2 separate regions of the Homo sapiens genome follow, and region 1 is linked to region 2. Evidence: fine-mapped expression QTL. Tissue or cell type: tibial nerve. Region 2 holds a variant in brackets; the other region holds the start of a gene. All regions are shown on one strand. Distances are from middle to middle.

Evidence for each region. PIP is the estimated chance that this variant, and not a neighbour inherited with it, causes the effect. A credible set is the group of variants that fine-mapping cannot tell apart.
Region 1: it holds the start of LINC02147, and the variant in region 2 is the best candidate, but not a certain one, in a credible set for the expression of LINC02147 in tibial nerve (GTEx, PIP 0.71).

Annotation. Positions count from the first base shown.
Region 1 is chr5:117,728,252-117,733,645 of GRCh38, forward strand. LINC02147 (long intergenic non-protein coding RNA 2147) reads left to right here and starts at 2,110. Exons shown (of 3, transcript NR_104997.1): 1 at 2,110-2,157.
Region 2 is chr5:117,757,995-117,763,388 of GRCh38, forward strand. All of the region lies in intron 1 of LINC02147 (long intergenic non-protein coding RNA 2147), which reads left to right. Among named protein-coding and RNA genes, the nearest start is that of LINC02147, 30 kb to the left of the region's middle. The variant T/A (reference allele first, on the strand shown) is at 2,239.

The sequences.
Region 1 (5,394 bases), 30 kb before region 2:
TTTAGGAAGACTACACATAACTTTTTAGGAGATATGTGGAAAAAACAGATGTTGACCAGTATTACTGTGGTACATAGGTGGAATGCAATTGCTCTTTGATACAAAGCTCTACAAAAAAAAAAAAAAAAGGTTTTTTTAAATTATAGATTTTCCTAGTTAACCTGTAACTGTGTTTTTTTTCTTAGAGAGATAAAGTGATGGAAAAGAAGGATGAATAGTCTGCCCAGGACTCATAATGTTGGTATTTCTTTTTTATAGTTAATTCACAAAGGTGGTTATCACTGGTAACTCTTTGTGGAAAATTCTCCATTCTTTTTTCTTTAGAAGTAAAAAGGGACTGTTTCATATTTTATCCAAATTACAACCAAATTGGTGAGGAAAATGTGAGTCAAAGTATTTTCTAAGTCATAAATATTTTTGAATGTTTTTGCTACTAAAGTTTCACTATAACAAATCTCAAAGAAATAAAATATACTAATAGGACATTTATGCTCTTCAAGGAAGTTCTGATGGGAGCATTTAAGTCTGGCCCCAACCTGGGGACTACCTGCTTACTTATTGTCCCCGAGGTTATAGTCATACCCTGAGGTCAGTGGCTTCAATCTTTCTGTAGTTGCTGGTCAGCTGTGGGACAGAACTGAATCCACCTCACATTCTATGTTGGGTACAGCTGAAATTTAGTGAGTTCAGCTGGGCACAAAGCTGAGTAATTTTCAAATAGAATAAAGCAAAGCTGTAATCTATATCTTTTTCTTAAACACCCTCTGTACCTACCCATTAGTAATAAATTTGGCTGGGTGGTTAGAGTTTGGGATGTAGAAGTGACTCTAATATTTAAGAGATGAGTCTGCTAGTTTACTCTTTTTTAAAATAATTTTTGAATTTTGAAACTTAATTTCTAAATAACACTCTCTAAAGAATCTAGATCAAAAATTGTTATTTCATCAGGAGCATTAACTAAATAAACACTGTTAATAATAGCATTGAAAATTATTACACACCTATTGGCTCAAGCTTATGGCTTTTGGTAGAAGAAATAGCAGACCATAATTCAGATTTCATTCATTCATTCCCATCAAGAGGAAAGGGTTTGCCGATCTAAATTTGAGCAGGTTGGTGAAGTATGCATATGTCTTTACAAACTTATTTCATAGTTTCATTTAACAAATCTTCAGGTTCAATTTCACCCTCAATACATGCCTTATAGAGATAGATATCACAATTATTAGATGAATTTATGATTTTAGGGTTTGCATCATACCCATATATTCACAAGTTTATAAATTCTGTTTTTAAAACCATCAGATCTTGTGAGACTTACTATCATGAGAACAGCACAAGAAAGACCTGCCGCCATGATTCAGTTACCTCCCACCGGGTCCCTCCCACAACATGTGGGAATTCAAGATGAGATTTCGGTGGGGACACAGCCAAACTATATCAAGAGTTTAACTGACAACTGCAATCATCCCAGACACCTGACCCCACTTGCCTGTACCTTTCCTCGGAGGTCCAATAAAAATGCCTGAAGCTCAGTGTTCCATTTAGGGTTCCACTTTCTCACCAGGATGTCTGTACAAGAGATGCATAGTCTTACGGGAGAGTAAAGTATATATCTTTAAACAATTTGTTTACTATGATATTCTACTAAGTGCATTTATTATCTTGCTTTCTCTCCTACCAGCAAAGGAAAAAAAATCATCTTAAGTAAATTTTTATAGATGATACTATCCCAAATTCTTCAACAAATGTTTTCCTGTATAATTTTTAAAAGGTTTGTTAAATGATAATGCCTTACTGATAGATTGTTGTATAGAAACTTTACTGGAAGGGATTCAGGAATACTGAAGAATGGAAGAAATCACAGAGAAGTCCAGCTTCTGATTCACCTTTGTGGGTGATATGGTTAGGCTTTCATCTTGAACTGTAATCCCCATGTATCAAGGAAGGAACCTGATGGGAGGTGATTGGATCCTGGGGGTGGTTCCCCTATGCTGTTCTCTTGATAGTGAGTTCTCAGGAGAACTGATGGTTTTAAAAGTGGCTCTTCCTTCTTCACTCTGTCTCTCTCCTGCCACTATTTAAGATGTGACTTGCTTCCCCTTAGCCTTCTGCCATGATTGGAAGTTTCCTGAAGCCTCCCAGCCATGCGGAACTGTGAGTCAATTAAACCTCTTGATGTGGTTTGGCTGTGTCCCCACCGAAATCTCATCTTGAATTCCCACGTGTTGTGGGAGGGACGCGGTGGGAGGGTCTTTCCTATGCTGTTCCTAAGCTCACAAAATCTGATGGCTTTATAAACAGGAGTTTGCCTGCACAAGCTCTTTTTTTCTTTCTGGCCGCTGTCCACGTAAGATGTGACTTGCTCCTCTTTGCCTTCTGCCATGATTGTGAAGCTTCCTAAGCCACGTGGAACTGTGAGTTCTCCATTAAACTTCTTTCCTTTGTAAAGTGCCTAGTCTGGGTTATGTCTTTATCAGCAGCGTGAAAACGGACAAATACACCTCTTTTCTTTATAAATTGCCCAGTCTCAGGTAGTATCTTTGTAGCAGTGTGAGAACAGACTAATACAGTGGGCATGTTCTGCTCCATACAATCTGACACTTGATTATAAAGTAATTGTTCGCTGTACGTTCTTTTATCTCAGAATAACCTGTTTTCTAATTAGTGCTTTATAGAGTGTTATAAAGTGTTATAAAGTGTTACAGAGTGTTACTTTAGCCTTTGCTTGCTGCAAAAGAAAAATTGGGCCAGAAATTGGCTATATATCTATCGGATCTCCCTCCCTCCCTTTCTATCTCCCTTTCTCTCTCTGACGAATCTAATCTGTGAACGATGGCATTTGAAAGCAAAGCAAAATGCAAAATACGCAAAAATAAAAGTTCTCTGGTGTTAGAAGACAGAAGAATCTTTTGAAAATTTAATTAAAAATTAAATTACCAGGCCTCTTCCTTAGAAATTCTGATGTGGTAAGTCTGAGCTGGTATCCAGGAATTTCCACTAAATAAGCTTCCTTGTAATTCCATTGCAGGTGATTCTTCTACTCATGTTAAAAACACTGGCTTAGGGAATCTGTATTAGGGATTATTCTGGTTGGCAGAATTTACCTATTTTCTAGCTATTCTACTGATATTTCCAGAACTGGTGGTCTATGATAAAGCATTTGAAACTTAAGTATTCGATTCTGGCTATTTGAAACTCACATTTTTCCCAGAAGGGCATTATTGTCCTATTATGAACCCAACAGCCATTCCTGCTTTCCTTTTTATTGACTTTTGCTTGACCTACTCAGAAATAACTATTATTTGGGTCCAGCGAGGCCCCAGGCTGTTACATATTTAGCACTTCTTTCTCCAACTCTAAGCCATCCAGCTTGGCTTAGCTATATAAAAAGCTCTTTCTCACAGCGGTGTTTCTGCCTGGTTGTTTATTTAGTGCATATCAGTTCACTGTTGCTTGCTGAATTGTTTCTTTTTGCTTGGCAGAGATGTTAAGTTCCCTGCTCCTATTGCTACATATTATCTGCAGCTTTCAGCCAAAATTATTAAGCAGATTTTGTTTAGTGAAGCTACATTTATTTAAAACAATTTTCTTTACCTGCAATCATTTGACTTTTTCATGATGTTCCTGCCTGATTTGCTTGAGATTTTTAATGATAATTCACCAAATAGTATACGGGAAGGTGGTTTATAAAATCATGTAGGTATTTGAATGGTTCAAAGGATTTTACTGTTCCTTCCACCCCAACATGTACCTCTTTTCATTGTAATTTGCTTGTGTGTGTGTGTGTGTGTGTGCGTGTGTGTTTTCATCCCTTCTCAGTTCTTGAAAAAGAAGTTGTGCCACATAATTAGTGGCCATTTAAGTCAGAGGTAATTTTTGGTTTACAGTAGCCATATGTCCTGATGGCACAGTTATTTCAAATACATTATTCAATTTTCTTCATGAATGTATTCATAGTTAATATGAGCGAGTCCTGAATTACGGGTGAGGGTTTATTTTCACCATTGCTCAATTTCAACAATTTGTGTTAATTCTACCTTCTAAACATCTCATGTATTCTCTCCTTTCCGTCCCAGTTGTCACTGCCTTAGTAAGCTGTCACTGTATTCTGCGGTGGACCATTAGGGGCCTGAACCTGAACTTCTATTTGCCCTCTGGATTACTCTGTTTAAATTCTTCCACTACACTTGAGTGATCCTGGACAATCTGCCTTCTCATGCCTCTGTGTCAGTGGTCCCCAACCTTTTTGGCACCAGTGACTGGGTTTGTAGAAGACAATTTTTCCATAGACTGGGGTGGGGGGAAATTGTTTCAGGATGATTCAAGTGCATTACATTTGTTGAGCACTTTATTTCTATTACATTGTAATATATAGTGAAATAATTATGCAATTCACCGTGAAGTAGAATCAGTGGGAGCCCTGAACTTGTTTTCCTGCAATCAGATGGTCACATCCGGGGGTGATGGGAGATAGTGACAGATCATCAGGCACTAGATTCTCATAAGGAGCTCGCAACCTAGCTCCCTCACATGTGCACTTCAAATAGGGTTTGTATTTGCTCTTAATAGAATCCAGTGCTGCTGCTGATCTGACAGGAGTTAGAGCTCAGGAGGTAATGCCAGTGATGGAGAGTGGCTGTAAATATAGATGAAGCTTTGTCCACTTGCTAGCCGCTCACCTCCTGATGTGAAGCCCAGTTCTCAACAGGCCTCAGACTGATACCCGTCTGTGGCCCAGGGGTTGGAGCCCCTACTGTATGTGTTTGCCTGTGACCTTCCCTGGCCTGAAGTTCACAGCCCAGCTGACCCACTGGCAATTCCTAAGCATTATTTAAGAAAGTTAGTGTAAAACTCTTCTCAGTAGCTTCAAAACTCCTCTCTGTCTCAAGTGGGCCACTTGAGTCCTTGTTCTCATCTATCTCCTGTGTCCTCTTTTGTTGCAGAAGTTGTGACGTGTCATGGAAAATATTGTTTTCTTCATCTGTTTCTTTGGAAAATTGATGTCATTTTGCTCATTAAAAATCTTTTGCCTAGCCAAGTATCTTGCAGGAAATAGATGTTGATTTAAGAAATAAGTATTTACATGTGATAAAGAAGAAAGAATATAATAAATTGACGTTTGTGTTCATTGGCCTCCATTATTTTTAATGTAAGCCCTATTTCACTTGCCAAATTTTTGAGTCTGCAGGAAAGTTATTTCCCTGTCTGTTATAAAGATTTTATGTTTTTATGTCCTTGTTGAAGAGTTGAGCTCCAATTTTTTTTTAAGAGACAGAGATTGTCGGGTGTAGTGGCTCACGCCTGTAATCCCAGCCCTTTGGGAGGCTGAGGCAGGCAGATCACCAGGTCAGGAGATGGAGATCATACTGCCCAACATGGTGAAAACCTGTC
Region 2 (5,394 bases):
TCTTGCCAGTGGCAAGTTACCAACCATCACTGTGGAGCTCGTTGTCCTGTAGAAAGCAGTGGGCTGAATCTGACCTCATTTGAATGTTCCTTTGTGTAGGATATATAAATATTGGTTTATTTGCCTGCTGTTTTCTAAATTCTTTCTTTGCAAAATAGGTGAGAATTTATTCATTTGAGAATTCTGAGATTTATATCATCTCAGAATTTATTCGAAATTTCTGGTTCTTTGCTTACAGAGCAGTGGCCATTTCTATTTCTGTCCACCAATGTCTCAGCTTGTTTCCAGTACCAAATTTAAAATATGGAACTAATTGAAGCCAGTTTAAAAAGGCAAAATCAACTTAGCTTTTGAGACAAACCCATAATTTTTCACCACTGTTTTCTCTGCCTGCCAAAATAAGCACTTTCTTAGGCAAATCTTATTTTCCTTTGAAAAATCCATAGGTGTAAATTTGCAAGCCGCTTTCAAACTTTTGCCTCATTAAGCCTAATGCTTTTTGGAATCACAGTAAACTATTTGCTTCAATAATTTATTTTGGGAACTAGTTACAGGCACTAATTCAGCTTTATGCAGAGAAGTATTTCTTTCTACCCATTCTTTATTTCTTGCTTTTTAATGTTATTATATGTTCTTCATGTGAAACACCAAACTTTTATTCTCCATACCACTGATTGATCTTGTAACAAAACAAGTGTGTGGTTGAAGGGACATACGCATACATAGATAGTATTTTGTAATGTTGATGTCCTATCAGAATATTAAGGAAACATGAAAATACCATAGTCTACGCAGTGTATTCATAAATTGGAAATCAGAGTTTGATTTGTAAGTTTATTTTGAATATGAAATAGAATTTTCATGACAATAATTTAAGAAACAGTGATTAGAATACAGTCATTTAAATTCAGCACATACCTATGAAGCACATACTATGTGTAATGCTCTGTGTCCTCTTTACTACTGGGGACACACTATCTGACTTCATGAACTGAACTTCATGTACCTATAAATAGTGATACTAATAACTAGCATTTTCTGAGAAGTTATGCTAAATATTATATGTTCAACATACATTATCTCATTTATCCCTCCCAGTGAAGAGGATACAGTTGTTACACTCATTTCATAAATTAGGAGCCAAGACTTATAGATATTTAGTGTCTTGCCTGAAGTCAGAAAACCAGAAAGAATCCTTATTTGAAACCAAGCCTGCCAGACCTTGAAATTCATGTTATTACTCAGTAGAGGTAAAGCCTATTTAAATGTCTTATGTTCTCACCTTTAAGTACCACTATTAGCTAGATGGATATTTGCAGGCTAAGTTGAGTGTTTAATTGTCATTTACAATATTGCATTCTTCAATAGTGTCCCACAGATTGTTGATATTATATCTGCCTCACGCTTCAAAAAGTTAGCAGGGGATCCTTCCAACTTCAGGTCCAAAATTGAGCCCTGTTGGCCTCACTACCAGCAGTGGTGGCAAAAGAAGGCATGCCAGGTGAAGGGAGTAGAAAGGTGTTAAGGTCTCACCCAAGGTTAATGCCTTTGGCCTGAGGGAAGTTTGCCCTCAGATATAAATTAATGAACAGAGTTTGGGCCCCCAGACATGGATTGGTTCACCCTCTTACTCTACGTGTACGTTCTTACGTTGATATTTTAAGAAAGAAATTGTCAATGGGAAGGAATTTTAGGGAAGAAACAGGTAAATAATGAAAGAAGAAAATAGAAATTTTAAAAGAATATAGTAGAAATCTCTTAAAAAAACAGCAAACTTTTTTTTTTAATCCTCTAAAAGTAGATGGATTTGTGTTATTTAGTAAGAAGACATTTTCACTGTAAGTGAAAATCTCAGGACTTTCTAATCTTAGATTCAAAGTGTTTAAAGATATTGATGGGATAGAGTTTAAGAGATTATATTATTATTCACACATATGTGATTGTGTGGTAAATGGGCTACTGGGGGAGAGGAGGGCTTTACATCTCCTTGCTGGAATATTCATGGCTTGCGTAGGCTGGAAGAGTTGATGATGCCTGCATGCATTTTCATAGGGTGGAACAAATCTGAATGTTTTCCTGTTGGGGGGGTGGTTCATGGGCTAATCTGTGAAAACTTTTATTTATCTCTGTATTATACAAACCCGTGATTCTGTCATTAGAATTGTCTGAATAATTACCAAGCATAAAAGCTGCATCATGATTAAAACATGAAATACAGAGGATGTTTATCAGAAAATT[T/A]TCCAGATCTCTTTGAACTTTTACTTTCATGAGAGTAGATGTTTTTTGAGATTACCTCATGGGGAAGGCGTAACTGCCTAATCATAATAAAAGTCTTCCTTCCTATGTTTATAAAACTGACAGATGTGGTTTCCAGAAAGTCAGATAATTTAGAAGTCGAGAAAAAGACAAAACTAAATGGTAAGTTTGTAAAATATCTTAAATGATTCCAAATTCATTTTTCCTTTAGATCAATGTCTAAGTTTGGAGTAGTTGTAGACATTTTTCAATAAAATGATTTGTGTTAATCTAATACAATTTATCTGAAGGAAAAGGTCAAGAAATAAGAACATTTTTAAAATAAGGTATCTGGTGAAAGTAAATACTGAAAACTCTGAGACTACATGTTAGATTTGTCTCTTGAAAATTGTTTCAGATAGCTTAAAACTCATGAGATTATAATGCTGAATCTTTTAGATTATTCTTGCACGCGTATTTTTTACAAGTGAGGAATTTCAAACAAGAGAAATTATGACTCCGATGATAGAATTTGGCAAAACTTTTACTATAAGCCAGTCTTTTCAAATCTGTTTGTTGTTCTTTCTATGAAATCTTTTTTGACTCTCTGATTATTCGATATAATTGTCCTTAAAATAAAAAAAAAAACCGTCTGGTTTTACTCTTCATTTACAAGAGATATCAATAGTGAAAATTTAAAGTAAATGATTTGTTTTTTTAAATTTATTAATAAACTGATGATGTAGCTATGCAATTCTATGCTTATTTTTAATATATTTGAGGACACAGAGTTTTACTAGATGACAAAAAAGGCTAGTCTAGTGTGGATGGGTCTGCCTATATACTCTATTTCTATTTTATTCATTGTGCAGCACTGATGAAAAAGAGAAGGTCTAATTTTCTGGGTTCCAGTGACCCTCTGATGAACACCGGGTGCTGGAGGTTTCTTCTAAAAGATAGCAAGTTTAAAATCTGAACTGGTGAAAAGTAATTCATAATAATGCTTACTTAATCGGGAAATAAAAAGAGGGACTAGAGTATCTAAATGCAGATGAAAGACCTTAGCTCTGCTCTGTATTTCTGTGGGTTAACCTCACAGTGGTTAAGAGAGTGGTTTAGAAACAACCAATTTGCTGAGCAATCCTGCTGACCAGTTCTCAACGGAAGACCTGGGGGAGTACTCTGTTGCTCTCCAGAGCTCTCTCTGTAAGGCCCTCTCCTCTCTTGTACTCTGCCCTGACATTGCTAGCTGCCTTGGCCTCCTTGACATTTCATTCAGCTCCTGTCTTTCTCTCTAAATCTAGGCTAGCATTGGGTATAGAAAGATGATCAGAGACTGGGAAGAGCTCATGTATTGGTTAAGAGAAATCTGATGCAGTAATGTGGTCAGGCATATATTTGTAATATTTTATAGAGTAAAAACTCAATGCTGTTATATTTTATTGTTACAACATAAGCAAATCAAACTGTCCAACTCTCTACCTTTCTCCTGTTGCTTATTAGAGTTGTTAAGTTTAGAAAGTAATGGATAGGTTGAGCTTCACATTTTTTTGTCTCCTATAAACTCCCACCGCAGTAATATAGTTTTTATTGATTACATACACACATATTTTTCCTACTTTTCACACTAGTTAATTATTGTGCAGACCACAAAGGTGAGAGTTCTAGTGAAACATGCGCTATCTCTTTCCTTGGATTTATGTAAACAAATACAAACATGAAAGTAAATTTGACACAGCTTCTGCTTCTCCCCTGCAGTGGCTTTGTGTGTTTTCATGCCAATTGTCAACATCCATTTTTCTTATCGCAACACTTTTCCTCTCCTTAATTCAGTTTTTATGTAGAAATTTGCCCAAGAAATAACCTAGTTAACCTCAACTTCTGTTTCAGCATACTTTGACATTTGTTGGCTAGAAAATTCTTTTTTTTTTTTTTTTTTTTTTGGCTTTTTCAGCAGTAAGAGGTGTGTCTGCATTTAGAAAAATATGTTCAATTATATAACTTATTTTGAAATTAACCATTGAAAAATTCACAGGGAGGCAATAATGATTTAGATGGTTTTGATTCATATATTTATTTCTCATTCAAAAAATAACTGGAACCTTCATAGTAAGAGGGGGGCATGATGCTTGAGAACACTACCTCTGTTTCTCTAAATCTACAAAATAAACCCAAATAAATAAAAATGAGAATAGATAAAAGAGAATGCAATAAGTCCTATCTTTTAAAAAGTCATAGGCAAAGGAAGAGAAAAAAGGAACCTTTAAAATAACATAGCGATTTCATCAGCTTTCAATTTCCTCTGTATGCCAAATATATTGATATGTTAAGAAAAAAAGTTTAAGAGACAATATCATAAAAAAACCCCTCCATTACCACCCCGCTCAAAATAATAGAATGAGCCCAGAGGCAGAGTTCTTAACATGAATCTCAGGAAGTCTTTGCTTGGCCCATAAAGTGCTAGGTGGCCTGACCTCTAGACACATCTCTGTTTCTCTCGTATCTCATCCCCTTAATTCACCCGGGTCTGTTTTCTTTGTCCTTAATTTCCTGAACATGCGCAAACCCTAGAGTCTCTTCTGAAGCTTGGTCATGTGACTGAAACGTTTTTATACAGCCTTCACATGATTAGCTTGTTTTATTATTGTTTAGATCACTCTAAAAGTGATTGCTATGCAAACCTTCATGATATGAATGAATAGCAGCATTCATTTTAATTACAAAATCAGATAGGGCTTGCCCTCTTTAGAGTTAGTGATGGGTTAGGCACTAACTAGGAGTACTTCTAGCTTGGGGATGTGCAGGTATGTTTCTGTTTCTTAATGGGAGTGTGAGTAATGTTTCCTTCCTAGATCTAGACATTGGTTTTTGAAGGTGCTTAGTTTGTGAAATGTATTAGGCAATAAAATTATATTCTGTATACTTTTCTGTATATACTTCAACAAAAGGTAGCAAAATACACACAGTTACAAATCTTATCTCATGTTATCAGACACTGTATAACCACAAGCAAGTGGTACTTAAACATGTTTATTTGGATTTTGTTTCGTTTTGTTTTTTCTGATCCCATTACTTTGTGTTTAGCCTCACATAATATCTCCATCCACTTCTGGAATTTTAAATGCTAAGAACTGAAGGCCATCTTCTAATTCTTTGGAC